Linked DNA regions of Homo sapiens: region 2 is linked to region 1. The links come from fine-mapping of genetic effects on gene expression. A gene starts in region 1. The other region holds a variant in brackets. All regions are shown on one strand. Distances are from middle to middle. Region 1 holds the start of TLR6 (toll like receptor 6). Region 2 overlaps TLR6 (toll like receptor 6).

The links.
Region 2: its variant is fine-mapped to the expression of TLR6 in whole blood (TOPMed, PIP 0.96).

Annotation. Positions count from the first base shown.
Region 1 is chr4:38,850,256-38,866,324 of GRCh38, forward strand. TLR6 (toll like receptor 6) reads right to left here and starts at 6,562. Exons shown (of 2, transcript NM_006068.5): 1 at 6,506-6,562. RefSeq lists an enhancer at 7,011-8,210.
Region 2 is chr4:38,818,664-38,834,732 of GRCh38, forward strand. TLR6 (toll like receptor 6) reads right to left here. Exons shown (of 2, transcript NM_006068.5): 2 at 4,234-10,874. The coding sequence starts at 10,810. The coding sequence ends at 8,420. Among named protein-coding and RNA genes, the nearest start is that of TLR1, 22 kb to the left of the region's middle. RefSeq lists enhancers at 950-1,069, 5,074-5,243, 12,804-12,973. The variant C/A (reference allele first, on the strand shown) is at 6,694.

The DNA.
Region 1 (16,069 bases):
AAATGCCCACAAGAGAAAGCAGGAAAGATCTAAAATTGACACCCTAACATCACAATTAAAAGAACTAGAGAAGCAAGAGCAAACATATTGAAAAGCTAGCAGAAGGCAAGAAATAACTAAGATCAGAGCAGAACTGAAGGAGATAGAGACACAAAACACCCTTCAAAAAATCAATGAATCCAGGAGGTGGGTTTTTGAAAAGATCAACAAAATTGATAGACCTCTAGCAAGACTAATAAAGAAGAAAAGAGAGAAATATCAAATCAACGCAATAAAAAATGATAAAGGGGATATCACCACTGATCCCACAGAAATACAAACTACCATCAGATAATACTATAAACACCTCTATGCAAATAAACTAGAAAATCTAGAAGAAGTGAATAAATTCCTCGACACCTACACTCTCCCAAGACTAAACCAGGAAGAAGTTGAATCCCTGAATAGGCCAATAACAGGCTCTGAAATTGAGGCAATAATTAATAGCCTACCAACCAAAAAAAGTCCAGGACCAGACGGATTCACAGCTGAATTCTACCAGAGGTACAACTAGGAGCTGGTACCATTCCTTCTGAAACTATTCCAATCAATAGAAAAAGAGGGAATCCTCCTTAACTCATTTTATGAGGCCAGCATCATCCTGATACCAAAGCCTGGCAGAGACACAACAAAAAAAGAGAATTTTAGACCAATATCCCTGATGAACATTAATACAAAAATCCTCAATAAAATACTGGCAAACTGAATCCAGCAGCACATCAAAAAGCTTATCCACCATGATCAAGTGGGCTTCATCCCTGGGATGCAAGGCTGTTTCAACATACGCAAATCAATAAATGTAATCCAGCATATAAACAGAACCAAAGACAAAAACCACATGATTATCTCAATAGATGCAGAAAAGGCCTTTGACAAAATTCAACAGCTCTTCATGCTAAAAATTCTCAATAAATTAGGTATTGATGGGACGTATCTCAAAATAATAAGAGCTATTTATGACAAACCCACAGCCAATAGCATACTGAATGGGCAAAAACTGGAAGCATTCCCTTTGAAAACTGGCACATGACAGAGATGCCCCCTCTCACCACTCCTATTCATATTCAACATAGTGTTGGAAGTTCTGGCCAGGGCAATCAGGCAAAAGAAAGAAATAAAGGGTATTCAATTAGGAAAAGAGGAAGTCAAATTGTCCCTCTTTGCAGATGACATGATAGTATATTTAGAAAACCCCATCGTCTCAGCCCAAAATCTCCTTAAGCTGATAAGCAACTTCAGCAAAGTCTCAGGATACAAAATCAATGTACAAAAATCACAAGCATTCTTATACATCAATAACAGACAAACAGAGAGCCAAATCATGAGTGGACTCCCATTCACAATTGCTTCAAAGAGAATAAAATACCTAGGAATCCAACTTACAAGGGATGTGAAGGACCTCTTCAAGGAGAACTACAAACCACTGCTCAATGAAATAAAAGAGGACACAAACAAACATTCCATGCTCATGGATAGGAAGAATCAATATCATGAAAATGGCCATACTGCCCAAAGTAATTTATAGATTCAATGCCATCCCCATCAAGCTACCAATGACTTTCTTCACAGAACTGGAAAAAACTACTTTAAAGTTCATATGGGGTCAAAAAAGAGCCCATATTGCCAAGTCAATCCTAAGCCAAAAGAACAAAGCTGGAGGCATCATGCTACCTAATTTCAAACTATACTACAAGGCTACAGTAACCAAAACAGCATGGTACTGGTACCAAAACAGAGATATAGATCAATGGAACAGAACAGAGCTCTCAGAAGTAATACCACACATCTACAACCATCTGATCTTTGACAAGCCTGACAAAAACAAGAAATAGGGAAAGGATTCCCTATTTAATAAATGGTGCTGGGAAAACTGGCTAGCCATATGGAGAAAGCTGAAACTGGATCCCTTCCTTACACCTTATACAAACATTAATTCAAGATGGATTAAAGACTTAAATGTTAGACTTAAAACCATAAAAACTCTAGAAGAAAACCTAGGCAATACCATTCAGGACATAGGCATGGGCAAGGACTTCAAGTCTAAAACACCAAAAGCAATGGCAACAAAAGACAAAATTGACAAATGGGATCTAATTAAACTAAAGAGCTTCTGCACAGCAAAAGAAACTACCATCAGAATGAATAGGCAACCTACAGAATGGGAGAAAATTTTTGCAATCTACTCATCCAACAAAGGGCTAATATCCAGAATCTACAATGAACTCAAACAAATTTACAAGAAAAAAATAAACAACCCCATCAAAAAGTGGGCGAAGGATATGAACAGACACTTCTCAAAAGAAGACATTTATGCAGCCAAAAGACACATGAAAAAATGCTCATCATCACTGGCCATCAGAGAAATGCAAATCAAAACCACAATGAGATACCGTCTCACACCAGTTAGAATGGCGATCATTAAAAAGTCAGGAAACAACAGGTGCTGGAGAGGACGTGGAGAAATAGGAACACTTTTACACTGTTGGTGGGACTGTAAACTAGTTCAACCATTGTGGAAGACAGTGTGGTGATTCCTCAGGGATCTAGAACTAGAAATACGATTTGACCCAGCTATCCCATTACTGGGTATATACCCAAAGGATTATAAATCATGCTGCTATAAAGATACATGCACACACATGTTTATTGTGGCACTATTCACAATAGCAAAGACTTGGAACCAACCCAAATGTCCATCAATGATAGACTGGATTAAGAAAATGTGGCACATATACACCATGGAATACTATGCAGCCATAAAAAAGGATGAGTTCATGTCCTTTGTAGGGACATGGATGAAGCTGGAAACCATCATTCTCGTAAACTATCGCAAGGACAAAAAACCAAACACCGCATGTTCTCACTCATAGGTGGGAAATGAACAATGAGAACTCTTGGACACAGGAAAGGGAACATAACACACTGGGGCCTGTCGTGGGGTGGGGGGAGGGGGGAGGGAAAGCATTAGGAGATATACGTAATGTAAATGACGAGTTAATGGGTGCAGCACACCAACATGGCACATGTATACATATATAACAAACCTGCATGTTGTGCACATGTACCCTAGAACTTAAAGTATAATAATAAAAAAAAAAGAATGCACACATTGTTCTTTCCGGAAGTTTTAACCACTGTAATAAAGAAAAAAAATGACAGGAAGAAATACTGAAATGAAGAAAGAAAATCATTATTATTTTTAGATTATAAGACTGTCAATGTGGAAAGCCAAAGAGAAGTCATTGAAAAAATGTTAGCACCAATAAAAGACTACAATAAAGTGGCCGTCACAAAATAAATTATTATCATTACTATTTTCTTAAACACTTTCTTTTTAAGAGACAGGGTTTTGTCCCACTGCCCAGGCTGGAGTGCAGTGGCACAATCATAGCTTAAGGTCCTGGGCTCATGCCATCCTCTCACCTCAGCCTCCCACGGAGCTGGGGTTACAGGTACAAGCCACTGCTCCTGGCAAAAATAAATTCTATTTTGAAAACAAATCCCTCAATTATCCAAAAATAGCAGGTTATCAAATAAATTTTAGTATCTCTGTATAATTAAATAGTACTATGTAGCCTTTAAAAATAATAAAAATCGAATTGCATGAAAATATTTTCACTATATGTGACAAAAAGCAGTTTATTTAAAAAGTACCAAAGTAAATATGTACCTATGCAAGTAGAAAAATTAATAAGATACATACCAAGATATGAACAGTAATTATCTTTGCACAGTAAGATTATAATGGAACTTTATTTTCCTCTTAGTTTTTATCTATATTTTTCAAACTTTTAACATTCAAAATTAAGTTTACTGTACTATTTACTGAATAATTTGCCAAAAATCAATTGCCAATAATATGAATAATGTGCAATCTCACAAAAAATAAAACAGCACGTTAAATCAAAAAAGCACATAACATCTAGATGAAACTCATGATCTTGGATTAGATCTCAGTTAAGACAGACTTGCTATAAAACATATTCAGTAACAGAAGGAGGGGCAGATTCTATGATGGACCAGCCATTAGATGCTATTAAGAAATAAATTGTAATTTTTTATAATGTTATTTGGCTATTTTAGGAAAATGTAATTTTTTTAGAGATAGAGAATAAAGCTTTTAGAAATAGGTTTCCAGAATGCCTGTTATTTTTACTATAAGATATTTAAGCATAAAAAGAGGAAGGGGGTCAAAGGAGGACTCTTGTTTCTTAAAAGATTTTTTAAAAGGCAAGATTTTTTTTTCACCTATCAAATAGGGAAAATTAAAAAATATAATATCCAGGTTGGTAGGTGGAAACTAAAATAAGAACCCTCATTTACTACTTAGGCAGGAATGAAAAATTAGTACAAGCTTTCTAAAGGGTAATTTGGTAATTTACATAAATTTCTTAAAAATATACCTTCCTTTATTTTAGCAATTCCACTACAAGGAATTTTCTAAAGAAATAGTCAAAAATAACACACAGAAGATATGACTATAAGGATACTCATGACATAATGAAATATTGAAAAAATCAGAATGTCTAGTGTAGAAAATGATTAAATCAGTTATGTATAATTAAATAATAGCCTCAAATACTGTACTTTGAAAAAATGATAATGTTAAATGAATACAGTAATAGAAAATTATGGCCGGGCGCAGTGGCTCACGCCTCTCATCCCAGCACTTTGGGAGGCCAAGGCGGGTGGATCACGAGGTCAGGAGATCGAGACCATCCTGGCTAACGGTGAAACCCCGTCTCTACTAAAAAAAAATACAAAAAAATTAGCCGGGCGTGGTGGCGGGCGCCTGTAGTCCCAGCTACTCGGGAGGCTGAGGCAGGAGAATGGCGTGAACCCGGGAGGCGGAGCTTGCAGTGAGCCGAGATCGTGCCGCTGCACTCCAGCCTGGGCGACAGAGCAAGACTCCGTCTCAAAAAAAAAAAAAAAAAATTATATATGTAGTAAGACTCTAATTTTGCAAAATATGATTAAAACCTGACATATACGTAAAAGCTAGAGGACAAACAATGTGATGAAATATACCAAATACTAATAATAGTGGTTCTCTGAATCTCTGAATTATAGATGAATTTAATTTTCTTTCTTATACTTTCAGATATCCCTAAAATGTCTCATTTTGAATGTCCTTTATAATCCAAAAAAGTTATCGTAAGGCAATTTAAGAGTTGTCTTTATAGCTGTGTGAAAATATTTTATATTTAAAGAAACGTGCTTGTTTTATTTGGAATATTAAAATATAAAGATGGAGAACTTTCAGATAATAGTAGATAACTGGCATTCACAGATGAGGACCTACCCTACAGGTCCCCGGCAACCAGACCCACGGTGTCTGGGTTCATGGGACTGAAAATCAGTCACCAGGTGGAAAAGCTGGTCAGCTGTCCTTATGGTATCCTGCCACAAAAACGCAATATTCCTCCAGAGGCGTTCATACCCTGAGGCAGTTCCTAGGGAATACACTAAATGAACAAGATAGTAACTTTTCTATTTATTGGGAAAAAAGGAGGGAAAAATGGGAAGATGAGAGTGGAAGATTAGAGAGTTCACAGTTTTTTAAAGAAAGTAAAAATAAACAGGTAAATGCTCTTGATTTTTTAAATGCATCAAATAAAAAGGGTGAGGAAATAGATGAAATAAGCTACATTTCAGAAAAAAAGGGTAGACAAGACCTATGAAAATTAAAACTACAAGGAAGAAGAGAGCAGAAAAAAAATTAAGTGAAATAAGTGGAGGAAAGATCACATAATCAAGTTAACAAATAGGCAAGAAAAACATTGTTTCATTTGTCAAACTGAAGGTGGAAGGACCTGGAGGAAGGCAATTGCTACACTGTGCCAGATTCAAGCTTGTGAAGGGGCTTGGTCCCGGCCACTTCCTCCATTTAATAAATGTTTATTCAGAGTCTATTTTTCTGCCAGTGCCATGCTACGCACTAGGCACCAGGGATATAAATATGAATAGGACTGACATAATTCCTGCTTTCAAAAAGCTTATGAATTAGGGACAGACACAGACCAGCAAACTGTTACAGTGACAAACGACAAGGGAGATCAAACACACGTCTGCTGTAAAAACATATAATAAATAGGTGCCATATCAGTGGTATATAAAAATTACTGTTAAATGTTACTGAAAACAATAAACTAGAGAAAGACGAAAAGAGAAAATTCGCTGGGCCAAATCAGAAGAAATAAATAACATTAGTTTTGTTCCTTAATTATCACCACAAGCGCTAGTTGTTTTCTATCTTTTCAAGACAGCTGTAAAGACGCTGCTCTTCATCCTGCTCGTGAAATTCAAAGGACATTTGCAACATCTACAAAAAAAACCACTTCAAATCATTTTGCAAAAATTTCAAGGAAACATTACCTATTTCCTATATAATGAATGGTTAGCAAACTTGCTTACTTGAAGCACCTGTGCCATAATGTGAAAAAGCCACAGAAGTCTTTCTACTTACCAAGATCTCTTTTTCAGAAGAAGAGAAAATAACTTGTAAATGAACGGAAATACAATTGAAAATGCTTGACAAACACAAGTTCTTAAAGTTGAGTAAAGCGGTACCTTAGAAACAGATTGGTGCCATCTGTTGGCCCACACTGGAATTACTCCTACGTATATTTTTACCTTTCAAAGGTCCGGAGGTGAGTTAGCAGTTTTTTCTGGGCTACAGACAAAACCAGTAATCCAATTTTCTAATTCGTGTGAGGAAGCAACTTACAAACAATTCAATGTGAAGAAAAATATTTTTCTAAGGTAATATTTCTCTGTAAGAGTTTGCAGCCTGGTTATTACATTTGTCACCTGAGTGGAAAGTTATTTTAAACAGCCTGTTTTCTATTATCACCATATTTAACATTTCAAGAATAATTGCAGTTTCCCTTATCAAGCAATTTTGAGCATTATTTTAGCTGGATGAGATAGTTTAAAATAAAATAAGTATAGTTCCACAATTTGGGTTTTTTTTTAAAAATCAACTTCTAAGGAAAGTTTACTGGTTGATACATATTTATGACTACATATTTAGCCATATGTACGAGCAATCATACCCACATTCTGATCAACATTTGGTGTTATTAAATGGTTTAGATTTTAATTTAGGAATAATAAATAACACTGAAATCCTGCAAGACTAATTTAAAAATCAATTTTCTAAAGACCATTTAGAAGAATTTCAGAATGACATCAACAAAGGCTGATTACCAGAAGTCTCTGGTTAAACAGAGACTTCTGGTGGACAGTAAACCCTTTTCCCCAGACTTCTTGCTTAACTGAGTTCTGCAAAGGACAGAAGGCATGAGTGAAACAATCATTCTATAATTTATCTCACTGTCTGGCACAATCTCATCTTTATTAAAAAAAAAACAACAACAAGTTAAGACCTTACAATTTGGCTAATGACAAAGTTGGACATCTCCGTAAGAATCACTTCTGCTTTCAGGAGGAAGAGAAAGGCTGGCTTCTTGTGATTCATCCTTACTCATCAAACATAACAGGAAGTCTCCTCAGGCCTGGGGAGGCTCAGTAAGGAGTGGATGGATCTCTGCTCCACTGGCAAAAGGAGACAGCCAGAAAGCAGCAGGTATCTGTGACCCTGGAAAACCAGATTTGTGAAACAAGCCAAGGGAAAGGGCTGGCTGTGGCTCTGAGGGAATTTCAAGTAACCGTGGACTAAAGTCTTAAGAAAACAGACAACTATCACTGCAGATCTGGGCACATTGACATGTCTCATTAGGAGATTGCATCACAACACCAATGTTCAGAAACAAGGAGACTATTCTTGTCGAGGCTGTCATAACTCAGAAACGTCTGTAAGGGGATGACAAAAACACAAAAATCAAGTAATAGCGAAGATGGCAATGACAGTTAAGCAAACAAAGAAACAGACAGTACTGGGCCGAACCTCCACTTGGCCACTTACTGTGAGGCTTGGGACAAGTCCCTTAACCTCCATTTATTCATCCACAAAATGGGAGTACTTTTAGGAAAGATAATGAATTTAAAGTGGCTGGAATAGTGACTGACACAGAAGAGAAGTCATAATAGTAAGGAGTTTGGTGCAAATCATATAGTTTTTTTGTATGCTGAGGGGTAAAGATTTCAGGATATACTATGAAGTGAAGAAAATCAAGGTGCAGGCTGGGCACGATGTCTCATGCCTGTAATCCCAGCACTTCGGGAGGCCGAGGTGGGTAGATCACCAGAGGTCAGGAGTTCGAGACCGGCTTGGCTAACATGGCGAAACCCTGTCTCTACTAAAAATACAAACATTAGCTGGGTATGGTGGCAGGCAACTGTACTCCCAGCTACTCGGGAGGCTGAAGCAGGAGAATCATTGGAACCCAGGAGGCAGAGGTAGCAGAGAGCTGAGATTGTGCCACTGCACTTCAGCCTGGGCAACAGAGTGAGACTCTGGCTCAAAAGAAAAAAGAAAGAAAGAAAGAGAGAGAGAGAGAGGGAGAGAGAGAGAGAGAGGGAGAGAGAGAGAGAGGGAGAGAGAGAGAGAGAGAGAGGGAGAGAGAGAGAGAGAGGAAGAAAGAAAGAAAGAAAGAAAGAAAGAAAGAAAGAAAGAAAGAAAGAAAGAAAGAGAGAAAGAAAGAAAGAAAAGAAAGAAAGAAAATTAAGGTGCAGAACTGTAAGAAGAGTATGACATCAATTGTATAAAATCTAGCCATTTACACAGGTTATCTTCTTGCCAGGCATTGCTGTGACTACTTTCCAAGTATTAACTCATTAAGGTGCTGTGAGATAAGTACTGTCACGTCATCTCCACTTAGCGCAGCTGGGTAATCGTTCCAGCTTGCACTGCTGGTCAGTGGTGGGGGTGGGATTCGAACCCAGGCAGTTTGGCCCCAGTGCCTATGCACTTAAGCATCATACTATGCTGCCTTAGAAGACACCCTGTGTCCTCATAAGACACACAGAGAAGAGAGATACAGAGAAGCAGAGCATTTGCAAACAGAGGCAGAGACTGGGGTATTGCAGTCACAATGCAAGGGATGTCTGGAGCCACCAGAGGCTGGAGAGAGCATCACCCTATGAACAGCTTGATTTTGAACTTCTAGCCTCCAGAACTCTGAGAGAATGAATTTTTGTTGTTTTAAGCCACACAGTCTGTGGTGATTTGTCATGGTAGCCACAGGAAACTTAATACAAGGGTCTACATACATATGTTGATAGAGGCATATGAATCTTTTTTTCTCAAAAGATACATAAGAAATGTTCACCTTTGAGCAGAAGAACTAAGAGAAATAGATTATTGGCCTTTTTTTTTTTTTTTTTGAGACAGGGTCTCGCTCTGTTGCCCAGGGTGGAGTGCAGTGGCGTGATCACAGCTCACTGCAGCCTTGACTTTCCCCACTCAGGCGATTCTCCCACCTCAGCCTCCCAAGGATCTGAGACCACAGGCATCCACCACCATGCATGGCTAATTTTTATATTTTTTTGCAGAGACAGGGTTTTGCCATGTCGCTCAGGCTGGTCTGGAATTCCTGGGCTCAAACAATCCGCCCACCTCAGCCTCCCAAAGTGCTGGAATTACAGGATTGAGCCACCCCGCCCGGCCTCTTCACCATTTTATGCTTTTTGTCCTATTTGAATTCTTCACTATATATAGATATGTATATATGTCTTAATTTTTAAAAAATAGTGTCACACTGGGTTAAGTATTATAAACATAATCTGAGGCCACCCAATACACTGTCCCAATACAGACACAGGCAAAACATTATTTTGATGACTTTTACTTGTTAAAAAATGTTGTCTTTCTCCAGATAATAAATAAATAAATAAATAAATATTAGTGTCTACCAACAGCTTTAAAGTAAGTTTTGTGACAATTATCAATATCATAAGATACACATACGACAGAGATAAGATTGATAATTTTGGCTGGGCGCAGTGGCTCACACTTGTAATCTCAGCACTTTGGGAGGCTGAGGCAGGCAGATCACCTGAGGTCAGGAGTTCAAAACCAGCCTGGGCAACATGGTGAAACCCTGTCTCTACTAAAAATACAAAAATTAGCTGGATGTGGTGGCTGGCGCCTGTAGTCCCAGCTACTCAGGAGCCTGAGGCACGAGAATCACTTGAACCCAGGAGGCGGAGGTTGCTGTGAGCTGAGATCGTGCCACTGCACTCAAGCCTGGGCAACAGAGCGAGACTCTGTCTCAAAAAAAAAAATGCTAATTTATATATTAAGTATTGATAGTAAACCTAAACTTCTCTGCTGAATTAAAAAAAAAAAAAAAAGACAAGCCGCAGACTGGGAGAAGGTATCTGCAACTTGTATAATCACAAAAGTGTTAATATACAAAATATATAAAGATTTCCTACAAATCAATTTTAAAATGACTAACAACCCCAATGCGGGGAAATGAGCAAAGGAGATCAACAGATGGATAACAGAAAAGGAAACAGAAATAGCTCAAACACATGGAAAGGTATGCATCCTCATTAGAACATGGGAAAATACAAATTAACACAACCAGGAGACACTATTGTACACCCCTAAGGTGGACAAAATTTAAAACATCTAGTAATACAAATGGTGGCCAGAACATGAAGAAACAGGAGCTCACATACATGTCCAGAGATGCTGATGTAAGTGGTCTGGGAGGGGCCGGGCATACGTTTTATTTTGAAAGCTCTTCAGGTGAGTCCATTTCATTGTAACCCCATGAAAATCAGGGGACTGAGACCTACACGCTGGCCTGAGCACAGCGCCCTCTAGTGGTCTATATCTTCTTGGGTGCACCCTTCACACACCAGAGCCTGGGAGGTGGTGCAGGTGTTCTTGACTCTCACTGCTACTTCCAGATCACTTTCCTTCCTCCAAACCCACCCCTTCTCATTGCAGTCATCTAGTGAGCCCCATCACTTCATCAAGTATTCTAGCAGTACTCACTATTTCAATCCGATACCACCCCTTTCATAATTCTAGTGATTTCCATAGCTACATAGAGACTCTTCCATTCACCTGGCCTCTGAGTTCTTGGACATTCTCTCTTCTAATAATCTTGTCCTGCACCCTACCTCAGTCATGCATTCCCTTATTATATCCTAGATATCATTATTAGCAATGGCTGCACCCCCTCCATAATCTCAGTTGCCTGAATCCCACTTTCCTTCTCTCACCTCCAACTCTTCCTCCAGTGCCAACGATTCCCCAGCCCCACTGCACTGGACTGAAAGATCATGCTCCATCCTCTTCATTATTCTTCTGCAGCTACTTACTCCTCTTTCCTCAACCCAGTTTAAATCCAGCTCTCCACTGGACTACACTGAGCTTGAGTGGCTGAATATAGTTGGAGAAAATACACACCCATGCTGACTGGCTTACTTGAAATGTATGACTAGATCCCAGCCTCAAGAGAGCAGCCATCCTCCTACCCTCCTTACTACCCTTCCCTAGCCCCTTCACTCTCCTGTTCTCCTCTTTCACACCTCCTCTTGTCTCTTTCACTTCCAAAATCTCCTTCTCGTGTCTAGGTCCTCTTTATCTCTCTGGCATGGATTACCCAAGGCTCAGATTTGGACCACTTCTTTTCTAAATCCATGCATTGTCATCTGGGTCCGTGGCTTCAAAACTATCTGCTTGCTGATGTCTCCTCAATTACCAGCTCCAGGCCAGACTTCCCTGAACTCCAGACTCTCACATTCAACAGCCTACTAAATAGTTGCTAAAACATTCTTGTTGAAAACCAACATTCTCACGCGATGATGCTTCATTTTCACAATGAAAATAGATGCTACCAGAGGAGCATTTCCACATCTTCCCCTGAAATTCTATAAGCCTCCCCTGCATGAGTTCTACCTGAACTCTTGCTGTCCTTCGGAATGAACTCTCTGTGCCAAGAGCCAGCCCCTTCCCACTGAGCACTGGGTCCCCTTCCTGCTCATCTACTCAAGGAAGTCACTCTTGCAATGATCTTCTCTCTACTGTATCAACATTTTTCTGCTCTGATGTATTATTCCAATCACATTTTTTTTTATTTTAGATAAGGTTTCACTCCCATCACCCTGGCTGGAGTGCAGTGGCATGATCTTTGGCTCACTGCAACCTTCACCTCCCAGGTTCAAGGGATTTTCTTGCCTCAGCCTTCTGAGTAGCCTGGATTACAGGTGTGTGCCATCACTCTCCGCTAATTTTTGTATTTTTAGTACAGACGGGGTTTTGCCATGTTGGCCAGGCTGGTTTTGAATTCCTGGCCTCAAGTGATCTGCCCGCCTCAGCCTCCCAAAGTGCTGGGATTACAGGCGTGTGCCACCACACCTGGCCCCAATCACCATTTTTTTTTTTTTTTTTTTTTTTGAGATGGAGTTTTGCTCTGTCACCCAGGCTGGAGTGCAGTGGTGCAATCTCAGCTCACTGCAACCTCCGCCTCCCAGGTTCAAGCAATTCTCCTGCCTCAGCCTCCCGAGTAGCTGGGACTACAGGCACGTGCCACCACGCCCAGTTAATTTTTTGTATTTTTAGTAGAGACAGGGTTTCACCCTGTTAACCAGGATGGTCTCGATCTCCTGACCTCATGATCCGCCCGTCTTGGCCTCCCAAAGTGCTAGGATTACGGGCATGAACCACTACACCCGGCCCCCAATCACATTTTAAAGCAATAATTTCTCCCATCTAAAAAAAAAAAAAAAAAAAAAAAACTCCCTTTGAATCCACAACCTTCCCCTCCTTGCTCCTCTATATACCAGAACTCCTTGCAAGAGCTTTTACTGACTATCTCTAATTGTTCTCCTCTCATTCTCTTAAATGTACTTCAGTCAGGTTTCCTTCCCCACCGGTCAGAAGAAATAGCTCTTTTCAAGGTCACCAATGATCACCACATTGCCAAATCCACGGTCAATTCTCAATTTTTAGCTTCTTTGAACTATTAGCAGCGTTTAACACAGTTGAAAGATCCTGAAATGTTTTCTTGCCTGACTTCCTAGACCCCATATCCCACTCCCCACTCTCCCTTCCCTGAATTTCCTGCTAACTCATTGGCATTCCTTCCCAGTCTCCTTCTGGGTCCTCTTTATATCTCTGGCATGGAATACCCAAGACTTAGTCTTGGACCACATCTCTAACTCCATGCACTCTCATCCTGGTCCTTCAAACCAGGATGAAGTCCCAGACTTCCCTGAACTTCAGACTCACATTCAATAGCCTGCTAAATGCTTGCTAAACCATTACTGTTGCAAGCCAAATGCCTGAATCTTTACTACCTCTAACTCCAAACCTGCCCCCTCTTGCATCCTTCCTCATATCAATAAATGATATTTCTACTCTTCCAGTAGTGCAGACTAAAATCCTTGGAGTGATTAATGATTAATTTCTCTTTTGCTCAAACTCTACATTCAATCTATAGGCAAATTTTGTTGGATTTTTCTTTGAAATATGTCCATAAGCAAACACCTCTCATGTCCCCCACTACTCCCATGGTGGTCAAAAGCATCATCATCTTTCACCTGGATAACTGCAATGGCATCCTAACAGGTATGCCAGCCTCCATCCTTCTCTCCCCTCCCACCTTCACCCAATTCCAATATGACTAGAGTCAGATACTAGAATCATACTCAAAAGCCATAAGGGTGCCAGTCTCACTCAAAGTATAAACCAAAATCCCTCTGCCCATCTCTCAGCCTCCACTACCTCTATGGCCTCATTTTCTTCTACTCTTCCCCATCCTCCCTCTGCTCCAGCCACACTGGCCACCTTACCTTTCTGTGAATGCATCATCCATGCTCCCAAACTGCCTGAGACTGTCTACAGATATGGCCACTGTTCATTTCCCTACTTCCTTAAAGTCTACATTGCAATGCCACTTTATCAGTAAGGACTTCCTTGACCACAGTTGGTCCTACCCATCATTCCCTAAACCCTGTAGATTCTATAGCCTGCTTTACTCCACCACCTCATATAGACCCTCTAGTTAGGGTCTATCTCCCTTTCTGTGGAGTGTAAGTTCTTGAATACCAGGAGTTTGCTTTGCTTCTTTTGTACTCCAAGCACCTACAGCCGTATTTGGTACACAGTGCATGCTTTCAGAAAGGTTATGTTGAATAAATGGTTGACCCATAATGAAGGGCGACTCAGCAATGTCTAGTAAAGGGGAACCAGCTATTCCATTTTTTTCCTAGATACTAAAAAATATATTCAAAGGTGGCAATTGTAGCATTATATGTAATTGAGTGAAATATGAAGCACAATAAAGTAGATCAATCGGGAAATAAATTGTGGCATATTCATGCCCTCCTATGAAGACTTTGAAATGAATGTGCTAGAGCTACATGTGTGAATATGAATGATTCTCAAAAATATAATGCAAGTTAACAAGTGTACAGGATGTCCTTAATATTCTAAAACATTGAAAAACAATTATACGTGCATTTGTGGGTGAGGACATATGCAGCAAACATTTAGAAATATGAGTGAGGGGGGCTGTGCATGGTGGCTCACACCTGTAGTCCCAGTACTTTAGGAGGCTGAGGCGGGAGGATTGCTTAAAGCCAGGAGTTTGAGACCAGCCTGGGCAACACAGCAAGACCACGACTCTACAAAAAAATTTAAAAATTTGCTGGGTGCAGTGGCACCCTGTGATCCTAGCTCCTTGTGAGGCTGAGGCAGGAGGATTGCTGGAGCCCAGGAGTCTGAGGCCGCACTGAGCCGTCATCACACCACTGCACTCCAGCCTAGGTGACAGAGTAAGACCTCATTCCTAAATAAGAAAGAAAGAAATATGGGTGGGAGGGATATACAACCACCTCAAGAAAATGGCTACCTGCAGAGATGGTGGACAATGGAAGGGATAGGGTTTCAAACATATCCGTAACATTTTTTTCTTTGCAAAGAAAATTCTAAAATAAATACTGCAAAAAATTTTGTTAAATCTAGATATCATCATAGTATTTCCTATATTTTTTACACAAATAAGTATTTGTCATATTATTCTTTACTTTTCTATATATTTTAAATACTCCAGAAAATTTTTAAATGAACTTAAAATGTTTTACATTGCAAATAAATAAAATATCTGAAATAAAATCTGGTAGTCCTGGAAGCAGCTACATGAGTAAAAGGGACAAATTTGCAGTGGGCAAAACAAAAAACAAACTTGTTGCCAGGATAGTTTGCTTTATTTTCTTTATTGGATAGGTGTGGTTTGGGTCAAAGGAGAAGAGGAACTCAGCCCTTTAAAAAGAGAACATCTGATTGGGCTGTTACGGCACAGCAGGGAAGGGAAGGCAGGTTAGCAAAGGTGCTTGCTGTCTCTGGGCAGGAGCAGAAGTCCCAGGCACAGACGTCTGTGTATATGCTACACCAAAACACACCTGTTGCAACTGGAACATAATTTGATAACACTCGCAAAGCCAGAACTGGAAGGGACTGTGCCGAGCAATGCTCTTTATTTTAGAGGTGGAAAAACTGAGTTACAGAAGCCACGTGTTAGTTAAGGTTCAAAGTCTCGCTCAATTCAAAAAGGCTATTGATCTCAATTTAAAGCAGTTTCCACCCACTCTCACATTAAGATAACTTTCTGGTTTTTCTATGAATTTAAAAATGACAGGCTGGGTGTGGTGGCTCACGCCTGTAATCCCAACACTTTGGGAGGCCGAGGTGGGCAGATCACTTGAGGTCAGGAGTTCGAGACCAGCCTTGCCACCATGGCAAAACCCTGTCTCTACTGAAAACACAAAAATTAGCCGGGTGTGGTGGCACGCACCTGTAATCCCAGCTACTCAAGAGGCTGAGGCAGAAGAATCGCTTGAACCCAGGAGATGGAGATGGTGCCACTGCACTGCAGCCTAGGCCACAGATCAAGACTCTGTCCTCCTAAAAAATAAAATAAAATAAATATTCAGTAGCTTAAAAAATTATTAATATAAAAATATTTAATAAAAATATTAAATAAGAAATATAGCCAGGCACGGTGGCTCATGCCTGTAATCCCAGCACTTTGGGAGGCCGAGGTGGGTGGATCACCTGAGGTCAGGAGTTCGAGACCAGCCTGGCCAACATGGTGAAACCCCGTCT
Region 2 (16,069 bases), 32 kb before region 1:
TTAATGATGTAAGCCTGCAAGCTCTTCTCCCTATGCAAGAGATGACATCTCTTTCTCAAGCCAAGTGAAGGGGAAATAACAGTAAAATTACTCTTAGACACGGGACAGGCAGATCAGGCATTTCTTTCCTCAAGAGGATTCTTGTTTTGATGCAGCAATGTGTAGGATCACCCTCTGAGGTTGATCCCCCTGCCCATCTGAGCAGTATTAGAGAACATTACACGTGCCCCCTGGGGGTTCAGGAGTGTAAATTAGTAGAGCGACTGGTGTCTACTCTGTTGGAGATTTCCATTGGACCAACCCTTGCCAACTGGCAATTAGAGACTGTGGTATCAGGTACCTGGGAAAGGGGGTGTATCTCCACCTCAGCATCCCATGGGCCACACACACACAAAAAGGCACAGGAGGGCTTCATCAGCTCCTGTGGCTCCATGCAAGGGAGAATGGAGGCCATAGGATAAGACCAGAGCTATAGGAAACAGAGACATCTGGTCATCCTGAGCCCTTGAATGATTTTGTGGAATAGAGACAGCTTACCTATTCTAGACCTCTTAGCTATACTTTTTTCTATTATATGAGAAAGAAATAAACCTCAATCTTATTTAAGCCTCTGTATTTGAGGTCTCCCAGTCCTGCAGCTTAGACTGTACCTTAATCGACACAATTATAGAAAAGGATATCTGCCTTCTTACCACTCATCCTTGATCTCCACTTCAGGGAGCTAGATCTGGGAGAGGGAGGGGCAAGAAGAGTGTATCTCAGATAAACCATGCCTACCTCCAAAATATATGCCAAGGTTGAGCTACAGACCTAGCCTGTGACATGCAGAAAGAAGATGAGTTTTAGATGAAGATGGAGATTTAGAATTTTAAACTAGATTGGAGTATCAGTATCTCAAAAGGACTGCAGAAGTATTAAATCTGCTCAAGATATCACTAAGGAGTGACAAGAGGGGAATTTCAGAATCCAGTTGATGGAATGACTGAGAAAAATAAACACTACTTCACATTTGGACTAGATGATGTTGAGATTCCTCATAAACTAACCGTAATTGAAACTCTCAGAAAGTCCCTGTGGTTTTAGAAATCCCCTCAGGTCTTTTACTCCCTGTAGTTTAGTCTCATTCCTTTCTAATCAAACCAGTCCCCAGAAACCTAGACAGAAATACCTCCTCCTTTCCCCATATTTGTGGTCTCATTCTCTTTAAAACTCCCACACTCTCACCGTTTATATCCCGGGTCTCCATCCACTGTCTCTTTCCTGTGCTCTTACACCCATCCACTCTATTCTCTTTGCCTATTACTCCTTTCTTTGTACCTCTGACTTTCCAAGCAGCTTCTTTTAGAGTCTTCACTCTTTCCAGGATAACATTTCTTTTCTGCTGCCACACTCAACTGAGTCTCCAGGGCATCAGAGCTGGTCATGCCAACTCCAGAGGACTGGGTTGAATAGTGTCCTCCACCCAACCTCCAAACATTTATGTCCATTTATTTCAGATTTATTCTGAAATCTCAGAATGTGACCTCATTGAAAAAAGAGTCTTTGTAGATCTAATTAAGTTAAGGACCAAGATGTGATGGCATCAGATTAAGGAGGCTCCTAAATCCAACTAGAGTGTCCTTGTAAGAGACAGGAAAAAAAAGACAGAGACTTGGAGGAGAACACCATGTGAAGACACAGGCACAGATTATTGATTATTTAACCCAAATTTGGGATACATTTTTTTAGATTGCGCATCTGCCATGTATGTCAATAGCCTACCAATAATTTTGGTTTCTCTTCTCATCTGTTGGTTCTACTGATTACGTAATAGGGTGTTGACTGGAACTTTTCTTATGACTTGGGTCCAAAACTAAAGACAAAGAAGTATTATGTACCACATTCTATAGAAAGCTGCTAACTACTGGGGCATGTCCTCCAGGGCATTCTAAGAAGCAGCTGATGCATCTGCAAACCAAGGGACGCCAAGGTTTGCCAGCAACTACCAGAAGCTAGGAGAGAGGAAAGGGATGATTTCTCCCTGACAGCCTCTGGAAGGAACAACCCTGCCAACCTTGATTTCTGACTTCTGCCTTCCTGAACTGGGAGAAATATATTTCTGTTGTTTTAAGCCACCCAGTTTGTGGTAATTTGTTTTGGTAGCCACAGGAAACTAACACATCCAGCAACACTGCCAATTTGATGCTTTCTTCGCTCATGGTATTCTTTCACTTCCAACTTTGCACCCACTGTGCCCTCCCCTTTGAAGGGTCTTCCCAGCCACATGCCCAGGACCCTTCCCAGCCACATGCCCAGGATCCTCCTGATGAAAGATCTTTCATCAAGGCTCATCCTAGCAGCCCTCCCTGGTCACTAACCTAGGTTTCTTATCTCTTTTGCTATGGTCTGGATGTTTGTGTGCCCCTCAAAATTCCTATGGTGAAATCCTAACCCCCAAGGGGATAATACAATCAGCCCTTCATATCCATGGGTTCCACATCCATAGATTCAAACAACCATGGATTGAAAATATTCAATAAATGAATAAATAAATAATAACAATATAATAATACAAAATAATAAAAATAAAAGACCATACAGTTTAACAACTACATAACATTTACATAACATTTACATTGTATTAGGTATTGTAAGAAATCTAGAGATGATTTAAGTATATGAGAGGATGTACATAGGTTATATGTAAATAGTACACTTTTTTTTTCAGAGTCAGTGTCTTGCTCTGTTGCCCAGGCTATAGTGCAACGGCATGATCATAGCTCACTGCAGCCTGGAATTCCTGGGCTCAAACAATCCTCCCACCTCAGCCTCCTGAGTAGTTGGGACTACAGGCATGTGCCGCCAGGCATGTATTTTTTTTGAGGAGGTGGGGTCTCACTATGATGCTCAGGTTGGAAGTATGCCATTTTACATAAGGGACTTGAGCATTCACAGACTTTGGAATCTACAGGGCTCCTGGAACCAATCCCCTGTGGATACGGAGAAAGAGCTGTATTAAGAGTTGGAGATGTTGGGAGACAATTAGGTCATGAATGTGGAGCCTTCATGAATGGCATTAGTGCCCTCCCCCAGGTGAGGATACAGTGAAAAGACAAGCCATCTATGAACCAGAAAGTGGGCCCTCGCCAGGCACCAAATCTGTCAGCAGCCTGACCCTGGACATTACAGCCTCCAGAACTATAAGCCATAAATTTCCATTGTTTATAAGCTACTCAATTTGTGGTACAGTCATGCAGTGCATAACAATATTTCACTCAACAGTCATGGCCCTATAAGATAATAATGGAGATGAAAAATTCCTATGGCCTAGTAACATTGCAGTGCAATGTATTACTCACATGTTTGTGGTGATGCTGCTGTAAACAAACATACGACACTGACAGTCATATAAAAGCACAGCACATACAATTATGTACAGTTCATAATACTTGATAATGATAATAAGCAACTATGTTACCGGTTTCTGTATCTAGTAGACTATAATTTTAATCATTATTTTAGAGTGTGCTCCTACTTATTTTTTTAAAAGCTAACTATAAAAATCCTCAAGCAGGTCCTTCAGGAGGTTTTCCAGAAGAAGGCATTGTTGTTACAGGAGATGATGGCTTCATGCATGTTATTGCCCCTAAAGACCTTCCAATGGAACAAGAGGTAGAAGTAGAAGACAGTGATATTGATAATGACCCTATGAGTAGGCCTAGGCTAGTGTGTGTGTGTCTGTGTGTGTGTCTCAGTTTTTAACAGAAAAGTTTAAAAAGTGAAAAATAAAAATAAAATATTTTAAAAATAGAAAAAACAAAATAAAGATGTAAAGAAGGAAAATATTTTTATATAGCTGTAGAATGTGTGTTTTAAGCTAAGTGTTATTGCTAAAGAGCCAAAAAAAAATTTAAGGCAAAAAGTTGATAAAGTAAAAACATTACAATAAGCTAAGGTTGACTTCTTACTAAAGAAAGAAAACAATTTTAATAATTTTTCTTACTAAAGAAAGAAAACAAATTTAATAATTTTTGTGTGGCCTATATGTACAATGGGACTTATAAAGTCCACAGTGGGACATGGTAAAGTCCACAGTAGGATATGGTAATGTCCTAGGCCTTCACATTCACTCACCCCTCACTCACTCACTGACTCACCCAGAGCAACTTCCAATCCTGCAAGCTCCATTTATGGTAAGTGCCTGTATTCGTTCATTTTCATGCTGCTGATAAAGACGTATCTGAGACTGTGCAATTCACAAAAGAAAGAGGTTTATTGGACCTACAGTTCCACAGAGCTGGGGAAGCCTCACAATCATGGCAGAAGGCAAGGAGGAGCAAGTCACATCTTACATGTCAGCAGGGAAGAGAGAGAACTTGTGCAGGGAAACTCCCCCTTAAAGAACCATCAGATTTCATGAGACCCATTCGCTAACAGGAGAACAGCACAGGAAAAGACCCGCCCCCATGATGCAATCACCTCCCACTGGGTCCCTCCCACAACACGTGGGAATTCAAGATGAGATTTGGGTGGGGACACAGCCAACCCACATCAGTGCCCTATACAGGTGTACCATTTTTTATCTTCTTTACCATATTTTTACCATACCCTTGCTATGTTTAGATATGTTTGGATACACAAATACTAAGCATTGTGTTACAATCACCTAGAAGCAACAGGCTATACCATAAGCCTAGGTGTGTAGTAAGCTATGTCATCTATGTCTGTGTGAGTGCACTCTATGATGTTCAACCAAAGTCAAAATTACCTAACACACATCTCAGAACTTAGTTAGAGCAGCCCAAACGGACTGACACCTTTCCTCATCCAAACTCATCTCTGCCATGCCCCATTCCTTTTAACAGGTCATCTTACTACGGGATCTATTGTTTATTCTTATCACAGTGTTAAGAACTGAAAACGTGTTGAGGCAAACTTACCAAATTGTGGCATTGGACGGGGGAATGAGAAGGAATAGTGCAAACATGGATGGAGGAGATACTTTATTTGTATGGATTTTTGTTTTGTTTTGCCTCCTTTTCGCTTTTTTGTTTTTCTTTGTTTTTTGTTTTAGGTCTTTCTGGATCAATTTTTCAACCTCCCAGAAACGACGGCAGGGAAGATGCCTGACCCTCAAAACAAAAGCGCGCATCCTACCGGGGCAATGGGCCCCGTGGGACGAGGTGCAGGGCCGCTGTGGGGCGGGCAGGTGAGGCACAGAGAAGGGCTCACCCAGCCTCCGAAAGGCAGCCATTCCCTTTTCTCAGTGTCCTGCTAAACCTGGAGCCGGGTCGCCCCAGCATCTTCCAGTGGCAGATGGGGAGGAGCAGCACCCACCGCGAAGGTGTCCACGGCCAAGGTCGGGCGCCCGGGCCGCCCAGGCACTGCGGCGGGGACGAGCGGCCAGGAGGCAGCTCAGCGTGGAACTGTAGCCCCGCCGCCCCCGCCCCCCCCTGCCTGGGCTTTTTAGATAAAATCCAGGACTTCATGGACATTTCCCGCATGGGACCGTTTCAGAGTCATTTGCTCATCCCACGAGTTTTTACTGCGCATCTACAATGGGGTGCACAGTGTCCCCTCGGCACTGGGGAGAGGCAGGGAACAGGTGGAGAAGTCTCCCTTTTTCCTGGAGCTTAGACTTCAGAGGAGAGAAGAAGAAGATGAGTAAGCAACTAAGCAAACAAGATAATTTTAGACAGTGATGTGTTCTGTGAAGAAAAGAAATGGGAAGAATGTGACGGAGAGGACTGTGAGGAACCTACTTTCCACTGGGATGCAGGGAGGCCCCTCTGCCGAGGGGATGTAGGTTTAACAAAATTAATGCTAAAATTCTATATTTTCAATGTCAACAATATTTTGTGGGAAACATTGATACCATTTAAAAAGATCTGATTATTTAGAATCTGTGGCAGTTTTTTTTGTCGTTGTTGTTACTGTGGTTGTTTGTTGTTTTTATTGTTTTTAGATTAGGCAACAGTTTAAAAAATCTGTTCAACAGGGGTTGTGGAAGAATGTGCCGTTTGGGATAGAGCCTAGGGAGGAAAACAAATGTTGTTCTCCTGAAGAGCAAGGAAGGGCTAATGCAGACAGAAGATGATGCTAATAAAATATCATTAAGGCTTATTTCGTTACAGCTATTATGAAACCAGATTTTTTTTCTTTTAACTTTTTTGAGATGGAGTCTCACTCTGTTGCCCAGCGGGGAGTACAGTAGCGCTGTCTCAGCTCACTACAGCCTCTGTCTCCCAGGTTCAAGTGATTTTCCTGCCTCAGCCTCCCGAGTAGCTGGGACTACAGGTGCACACCACCACACCCGGCTAATTTTTGTATTTTTAGTACAGACAGGGTTTCACCATGTTGGCCAGGCTGGTCTCGAACTCCTGACCTCAAGTGATCCACCTGCCTCAGCCTCCCACAGTACTGGGATTATAGATGTGAGCCAACGTGCCTGGCCGAAACTGGTTTATTGAATGAACTAAGTCCAGAAAGCGAGGGCTTCATTTTTCTCTAACCATTGCCTTACAACAAAGTTCTGTTGGATCTCCTCCCATCATCACTCCTGAATCTTGGGCAGATACCATAAATTTTAGTGACAAATCTCACTTTAGTCATTGCACCTCTATTTAAGGGATTAAAATGTCCAGGCCAGTCCAATTTAACAGCAATCTCACACCTCATTCAAAAATCTGCTTGGCCTTCCTTGCAGTGAAATGA[C/A]GAAGGCATATAGTCAGTTTCTTTACTCTTCCTCCATTGTCTCTGTCTTCTCTATATTCTAGATGTCCCTATGCCATTGCAAGGGAAGAGGGTATTACACAAAGAGGAGCAGATCTTCCTGTAGTTAACTATTGAATAAGGCAGACAGGCCAGCATGATCCTGCCAGCTGCTATGGCAGAGTCCAAATGCTGGCTTTTTCATAGGGCACATCTGTGAGTTATTGGAGGGCCTTGAGTGTACCCCACATTGCACAGTTCCATGATGCAGGGCCACATTATCTGGCTGACCTCTTGCAGCAACCTCCACCCCAAACCCCTCTTCTGCCTAACCCCGTGTCCTCTTACTGCTATAGTTTCTTTGCACAACAGGCTACCCTGTTGGCTGATATCCCGTCATGACAATGCAAGCCCAGCTACTCTTCCATAGTCAAAGCCATGTGAAGAAATTCACATCCTTTTACCATGTCAATAATGGGAGGGCAGGTTGCTATCAGTGCTTCTCTTCTCTCATCCTGCCATTTTGGGTGCTCAAGCCAACCTTTCACCTCCTGAATTCCCCAGGGGGGAAGAACTCATCTATTCATTCAACAAATATTCATCAAGCACTTGTATTTGCCAAACACTATTTACCAGTCTCTGTGTTCCCAGTGCCCACCCTCGGACTCCAGCAAACACTCATCAAGCTCTTCCAAGAATTCTCAAGCCACACCACATCTGCTGCACTGAACCTGTGTGCTCCTGTTACTCTGCAAGCTTTCAGTCTTGGAGTGGGATGCCAGGCTACCTTCTACCATGCTGAGTCCCTCACACTTGTCTGCAAGAAATTCAAAGCAATCTCCCTATGGCCTAGAACCTCCGCTTAATGACTCTTTAATCACGCTTTTGACTCTAGTCTTCTAGAGATGGATAATACGGACTGGGAGTCATTGGTCTCTTTCTGCTCTTTTGATAAGTCCAGACTGGCTGTGTCTAGTATCATGTTGGTGCAGTTACTGTCTTTCGTCAGCTTTGAGCCTTTAGCCAGAATTCTAAGACAACCAGAAAAGTCCCATTCAATATCCAGCTGCAAATAAATTTGGCCGAGTTTTCTTGGAAAGCAGGTGGATCCACGTCTTTCACCTCAACAGCTTATGATTAAGTCCATATATCCCTTTACATACATACACTATCAAGTCATGAGTCCTCATTGGTTAATTACATATTTGTGTAGCAGGATAAAAAATTAAATAAGCTATTACACATATGTGAAACAAAAGACTTTTTTATATGCCGTAGCTGATCTAATTTTTTCCCCAAGCCCCAGACTTGAAGAGAATGATGACACTGACCCAAAGACCAATATGATTCACAGGGCACTCCGAGGACTGGTGCATATGATGCTGAAGTTGACTGTTCCCTTGCTGCCATGAAGCCATATAAACTCTTGCTCACAACAGAATCCATTTGGGAAAGCAGAGTGGAGAGGAGCTGAAAAACTGAGCATTTACTCAAAAGAGACTGTTTCAATTTGAAACATAATGATTAAACCAGAAGAGACTGGGCTGTCTCTAACTGGCAGGCTAACCTCACCGCCTAGCTCAGTTCCCCAGATGAAACATTGTTTTTGTTAAGTCTTTCCTGAAGGCATGAGGATAATGGAGGCACCTCCAGACAGTTACTTACGACTGTACTATTCACCATCATCCAAGTAAATAATGGTTTCTTAAGTTGAATTTCCTAAATTTTTTTAAGATTTCACATCATTGTTTTCAGTGACTAGTGTTAATTTCATATTAAAAGCGGCTCTAATGTTAGCCCAAAAGAGCCCACGTTTGCTTTTCTCCTTGGGCCACTGCAAATAAGTCCGCTGCGTCATGAGAGCCTTCAGCTTGTGGTACTTGTTGGGAATGCTGTTCTGTGGAATGGGTTCCAGTAAGATGAGGATTAAGTTATTAGATCCTTCATGAAAGAGATTGTGATGGGCAAAATAGAGTTCGTAATGGCACCACTCACTCTGGACAAAGTTGGGAGACAAAACAAAGATGGACTTGTAACTCTTCTCAATGCAGTTGATGATATTTTCCACAATGCTCTTGCCAGGGACAAAGTTTCTCTCATGAAGACAAATCTGTATATCTTCTTTTTCTAGGTAAGGTACCAATTCACTTTTCACCCAGGCAGAATCATGTTCACTATATGAAATAAAAGCATGAAACTGGAGGTTTCTTTGGAGTTCTTCTAAGGGTATGTTCCTGGCCCTGCGCCGAGTCTGGGTCCACTGGCACACCATCCTGAGATACCAGGGCAGATCCAAGTAGATGCAGAGGGAGGTCACAGTCACAGCCAACACCAGCATGGTGGCACCGATGGTGACGATCAGCAGAGTTATGTTGCAGGATAATTCAGACATGTGAAAGTCCTTTAGTGGGCTTCCTCTATAACTTTCTGGGTAGTCACACTTATAAGAATCAGGCCAGCCCTCTAACACTTCACTTGATACTTGGTCTATATTTTTGACAAATTCTCTTAGCTCACAGGTACATTGGAATGGATTGTCCCCTGCTTTTATTGACCTCATCTTCTGGCAGCTCTGGAAGAAATCAGCCGATGGGTGGGAAACTGAATTGTGATCAATGATCAATACAGAAAGGCTGCTAAAGCTGCCACATCCAGGAAGGTCAGTTAAAGAATTGAAAGCAACATTGAGTTCTTGCAAAGCTTCCAGTTTTACGACTTGTTTAGGAACGCTCTTTATTTTATTGCTGTGAAGATCAAGTACCTTGATCCTGGGAGGTAAACATCTGAAAACAGAGTCAGTAAGCATATTTGAAGACAAATTTAACACCACTATACTCTCAACCCAAGTGCAGTTTTCTTTATGTCTACCAGATTCCAAAGAATTCCAGCTAACATCCAGTATTTCCAAAGAAGGCATATCCTTCGTCATGAGACCTACTTTGAAAAGGTCTTTTAATCCATTCTTTTGTAAGATAAGTGTCTCCAATTTAACTAACGTGGAACATTTTTCAAAAATACTATCTGTGAAAACGTTCTGGGTAAAGTTCAAAAACTTGAATGTGCTTGGTGCATGAGGACACAGCATGTGTATAAAAGGTGTATCTGAAATGGTTAACATCATAATGTTCATCTCAGAAAACACGGTGTACAAAGCTGTCTGTGAAAACAGAAAAACTTGGTTCGTGATATGTTCTATTGTCAATGCTTTCAATGTCGTTTTAGAATAAGTAAAATCTTCTTCACGAATGCTTTCAATTATTGTTAAATTGTAAATATTGAGATATTCCACAGGTTTGGGCCAAAGAAATTGAAAGACTCTGACCAGGCATTTCCAAGTCGTTTCTATGTGGTTGAGGGTAAAATTCAGTAAGGTTGAACCTCTGGTGAGTTCTGATAAAAATTTAATGAAAACTTGACAGTTGTCATCATTCAATTTAATATTAGTCAGTTGTAAGCACCCTAAAGTATTAACTGATATGTTCACTTGGATAGCGAATAAACTAGTTGGGTGAAAAACAAGGTGAAGGGTTTTTGCATTCAGAATTTGTAGACTTTCTGTCTCATTTTCTTTTATATAATAATTTCTTAAATCCAGAAGGATATAACTTAGATGCAAGTGAGCAATTGGCAGCAAATCTAATTTTTGCAGCTTCATAGCACTCAATCCCAAGAAATTCAGTTGTGATAAGTTGCCAAATTCCTTACAGATGGGCAGGGCCTTGAAATCATTGAATGAGAGATCTAAATGCCTGAAACTCACAATAGGATGGCAGGATATCTTTTGCAACTGATTATGAGATAAATCCAAATATTCTAAATCCTGGTTGAACTTGAAAACACTTAAATCAAGTAGCTGGATTCTGTTATGGGAAAGTCTCAAAACTGTCAACTCTGATAGAAAGCTCATGTCAGAGACCTGAAGCTCAGCGATGTAGTTCTGAGACATATCTAAGACTTTGGTTTTCAGCGGTAGGTCTTTTGGAACATGAATAAGACCTCTTTTTGACTTGTCTACTGCAAATTCATTTCCGTCGGAGAACTGGATTCTGGTTCCAACTATTATGATCATAAGGCAAACAAAATGGAAGCTTTTAACAATAGGTTCTTTGTCTTTGGTCATGATGTTGCAGTGGCTATCCTAAAGGGTTGTTCTTCTTCAGAGCATCTTGATATGAGTCCAAATTCTAGAAATATAATATACACTAAGATTAATAAAGATCGGATGGTTACTCTCAAACCTCCACTTACTAACCATAAAATCTAAATGATTTCTTCATTCACTAGTAGAGTCATTTCTGTCCCCATAATTTAATGTAATACTTTTTATAACCAGTTATATAGCTTGCTCATGCCAGAAGGGGCAATATAGGCCTTGTTATCAAAGAATTGTGGTTGTGTGTTTTGACCTGTCTGGTTGCTGCCTGAGGGATTCACACTCAGGGGCTTGCCTTTGTTTTGTACACCTTAGAACTTTCTCAGGGCTGGAACAGCCTTCTGGCTGGTGTTTGCTGTAAACAATTAAAGGCAAACATACTAGCTGCAGCCACCTGAGCAAGGGCTAACAGAGGGGGCAAGCAGCAGACACATCAAAAAGTCTGGGAAATATGCAAAGATATATGGAGAAAGATATGTGGGAGAAAAAAGGCTGAGGAAATCTCTGTATATACCAGGGAGTCCAGAAGTCCACTCACGTGCCCAAGGCTGGACGCATGTTCAGAGGAGACCTGAGAAAATCCTAAACTTCACCTCTGGCTCATCTTTAGCTTCCATGCATGCAGAAAGTGAAGGCTAAAGCAGAGCTGTGAATAGACTGGCTAAGCATTGAGAAAGTGATCCAACACAGCCAACCTGCAAAGATCAGGGGTGTTTTTGTTTTTGCTTTTGCTAGTTTATTTGGTTTTTGTTTTTGCTCCAGATGTTTAAAGAAATCTCAAGTTACTGGCTGACCACTAAGCTAACTGGACAGAAAATGTAATAGCCACACATGACAAAGAATAATCTTTATAAAAATTATTTAGAAAAGTCATTAAACAAGCAACTATAAGCCACAAGAAGCAACAATACACCCTGGGAAAGGGAGGCCCGGCACAGTGGCTTAAGCCTATAGTCCCAGAACTTGGGGAGGGCAAGGCAGGTGGATTGCTTGAGTCCAGGAGTTCAAAGCCAGCCTGCGCAACATAGTGAAACTCCATCTCTACAAAAAATACAAAACTTAGCTGGGCATGGTGGCGTGTGCCTATAGTCCCAGCTACTTGGGAGGCTGAGTGGGAGGATTGTTTGGGGCCGAGGAAGTCGAGGCTCCAATGAGCTGTGATTACACCACTGCACTCCAGCCTGGGTGACAGAATGAGACCCTGTCAAAAAATAAATAAATAAATAAATAAAACACCTCTGGGAAAGGGGGACAGAATTTGATTTCTAGAGTTACCTCATTGTAGTGTTTAAAATGTCTGATTTAAAAAAATAAAAATCAAAACAAAATAATCACTAGCCCCCAGATTTGCCAGTGGACTTGCTCTACGTTTTGCCCTGAAATAACACAAACCTTGCAAAAAGCAAATGGAAAGAGATTGTTATCTTTTTGATTGTGTAACTTGGCATTAAAGGAATCTCTAATTTATTTGTTTAAAAAAATTAGCCATGCAAAGAAACAGAAAGTATTGTTCATTCACAGGAAAAAAAAAAAAAAGAAATTAAAAGAACAAAGCCAGATAACTGACACCACCTAACATTGAGACTTGCTACAAAGCTACAGCAATCAAGGCAGTGTGGTTTTGGTGAAAGAATAGACAAATAGGTCAAATGACCAGAATACAGAGCTTAGAAATAGACCCACAAAAAAATAATCAACTGCTGTTTGACAAACGAGCAAAGGCAACTCAGTGGAGAATGGATAGTCTTTTCAACAAATGGTGCTGGAACAATTAGACCTCCACATGCAAAAAAAAAAAAAGAAGAAGAAGAGAAAGAATTTAGACGCAGACCTTACAGTTTTCACAAAAATCAGCTCAAAATTAACCATAGACCTAAATGTATAATGCAAAACTATAAAATTTCCAGAAGATAACATAGGAGAAAATCTAGGTGACTTTGGATTTGGTGATGACTTTTGAGATACGCATCAAAAACATAATCCAAGAAAGAAAACACTGTTAAGTTGGACTTCATTAAAATTAAAATTTTTGCTTTGCAAAAGACACTGCAAGAGAGTGAAAAAGACAAACCACAGACTCAGAGAAGATATTTGCAAAACCCATATATGATAGGGACTTGTATCCAAACTATGCAAAGAACTCTTAAGCTCCACAATAAGAAAACAAACAACCTAGTTTTTAAATGGGCACAAAAATCTAAACAGACACCTCACCAAAGAAGATATGTAAAGAGCAAATACACATATACATAGCTATTTGACATCATATTTCATCATGGTTTTGCAGATTAATACAGCAATGAAATTACATTACACTTATGAGAATGGGTAAAATCCAAAAACAACATCAAATGTTGGTGAGGATGTGGAGCAACAAGAACTCTCTTTCACTGTTTGTGGGAATGCAAAATGGTGCAGCCACTATGGAATGCAGTTTCTTATAAAACTAAGCATAGTCTTATCACACAATCCAGCAAATCACATTCCTGGGTATTTAACCAAAAGAACTGAAAATTTATGTCCACATAAAAGCCTCCATGTGGATGTTTATAGAAGCTTTATTCATAACTGTCAAACATTGGAAGCAACAAGATATCCCTCAATAGATAAAAATATTAACAAACTGGTACATTCACACAATAAAATACTATTGAACAATTAAAAAATGAGCCGGAGAAGCATTAAAATGGCTGAATAGAGGCACCTAGCCCTCACCCCCTCTGCAAAGAAGGACCAAAACAGTGAGCAGATAATCACACATTGAATGAGCATCTAAGAGAGAACACTGGAATTCAGCGGAGAAGTGACAGTGCACCTCTGAGGCATGGGAGAAGAGGGAAGTGAAGCAGCCAGCCCAGCTGGGACTAGCTCAGAACCAGGAGGAACTTCCCATTCCAGGGAAAGTTTAACTGAGAGATCTTCAGAGGTCAATGTTTCCACTATGGACTCCTGTAATCCTAGCCATGAGCTAGCTCCTTGGCCTTCACATGCCCTGGGGCTGTCTGGAATATATGCAATCACATTGTTCCACAATGGGACTTCACATTGGGTCCCACATACCCCATACCCTGAGACCCAAACAGCTTCAGCATAAGGCTCTTTTAAGAGCCCAGCCCTCACCATACACATCCTGTTCTGGGGCCCAACAACCCTGAATCTCCACACCCCTGAAGCCCCACTGATATTCTCCTACGTCCACCTAGAGGGCTACAGCATTGTAATGCCAGCTAAGATCAGCAGTGCAGCTAGGTCCCCAGCACTCTAGCCCATGCAATGCCCCGCATCCCAGGAAACAGGAAGCACAGTGCACCTAGTGGCTTTCCCTGGGACAAAGGGAGTCAAAGTGTGCATTCCCCAGAGCCTCAGAGTTACCTGCCCAGGGCCACCGCCACTTACAGCAACCCCATCTTCCCTAGCAGCAGGACTACGACACATCTACACATGCCTCCAAGGGGCCTGAGGACAGGTCCACCATGCCCTTTGCTGCTAGTGCCTGCCTGCCACTGCCATGGCAGGGCAGTGCCACACAGGGTGTGGCACATGCATGCCACACGGGGTCCTGAGGACTGGCTTGCCCAGCCTGCTGCTGCCTGTGTCTACCACTTGGGGGCCAGAGGGTTGGTCCACTTTTCCTACTGCTACAGTTAATGCCACACAAATTGTGCAGGGGCCCAAGAACCTGCCCTCCCACTTGGTCCATTACTGCCACTGCAAGCATCCAACTAAATCTCCTGGAGGCTCAAGGACCCATCACCACGAGTGCCCACATATTTCACACAGGGGCCTGAGAACCGGCAAGCCTAGGCCACTGCTGCCACCACTGTTGCCTGAGAACAGGCCTGCCTGGTGTCCCCATCCCCAGCAAAGCCTTGCCATAGTGTCTGCTGACAACTGTAACCTAAGCCACTGAGGAACCCAAATGCCACTGACACTGATGACAGGTGAAGAAATCATACAGAAACTACACTGCTGTGCCCACTCAGAATCAAAGCCAAAGCACCCTATACTCAACTAACACTATAAAAACACCTAGAGGCAAAAGTCTTTCCCTATCAAAGCCAATCCATAAAATTGGAAGCAGCAGCTATTACATCAGATCCATAGATATCAACATAAGGACACAAGAAATACAAAAGTGCAAGGAAACATGAAGCCTCCAAAGGAACACAATAATTCTCTAATAACAGATCTCAACAAAAAGAAAATCTATAAAATGCCTGAAAAGTAATTCAAAATAATGATACTAAAGAAACTCAGTGAGTTACAAGAGAGCATAGATAAATAATAAAAGAAATCAGAAAAATAATTTATGATCTGAGTCAGAAATTCAACAAAGAAATAGATATTAAAAATAGAACAAAACAGAAATTTTGGAACTACAGAGGTCAATAAATGAAGTAAAAAAATATAATCAAGAGCTTGTACAAACAATAGACTAGGCCAGGTGCAGTGGCTCACAACTGTAATCCCAGCACTTTGGGAGGCTGAGGTGGGTGGATCTCCTGAGGTCAGGAGTTCGAGACCAGCCTGGCCAAAATGGTGAAACCATATCTGTACTAAAAAAAAAAAAAAATTACAAAAATTAGTTGGGCGTGGTGGCAGGCACCTGTAATCCCAGCTACTTGCGAGGCTGAGGCATGAGAATTGCTTGAACCCAGGAGGCAGAGGTTGCAGCGAGCTGAGATTGCACCACTATGCTCCAGCCTGGGTGACAAGAGCAAAACTCCAGCTCAAAAAAAAAATATATATATAAAATTAAAAATTAAAAAACAGTAGACTAGATTGAGCAAAATAAAGAATTTCTGAACTGGAAGACAGGTCTTTTGAAATAACCCAGTGAGGCGAAAAAAAAAAAAAAGGAATAAAAAAGAATAAAGAAAGCCTATGGAACACCATTAAGCAAACAAAATTCACATTTTGGGAGTTCCAGAAGCAGAAGAGATGAGCAAAGGGATAGAAAACATGTTTAATGAAATAATAGCTAAAAACTTTCCAGGTCTTACAAGAGGTATAGACATCCAGATACAAGAAGCTTAAAAATTCCCAAGTAGATTTAATTCAAAAATGTTCTCTCTGAGGAAGATCACAGTCAAACTCTCAAAAGTTGAAGACTAAGACAGAATCCTAAAAACAGCAAGAAATAAAAAAAGTCAAGTCATATAGAAGAGACTCCCCATCAGACTAACAGATTTTTCAGCAGAAACTATAGGCCAGGAGAGAATGGGA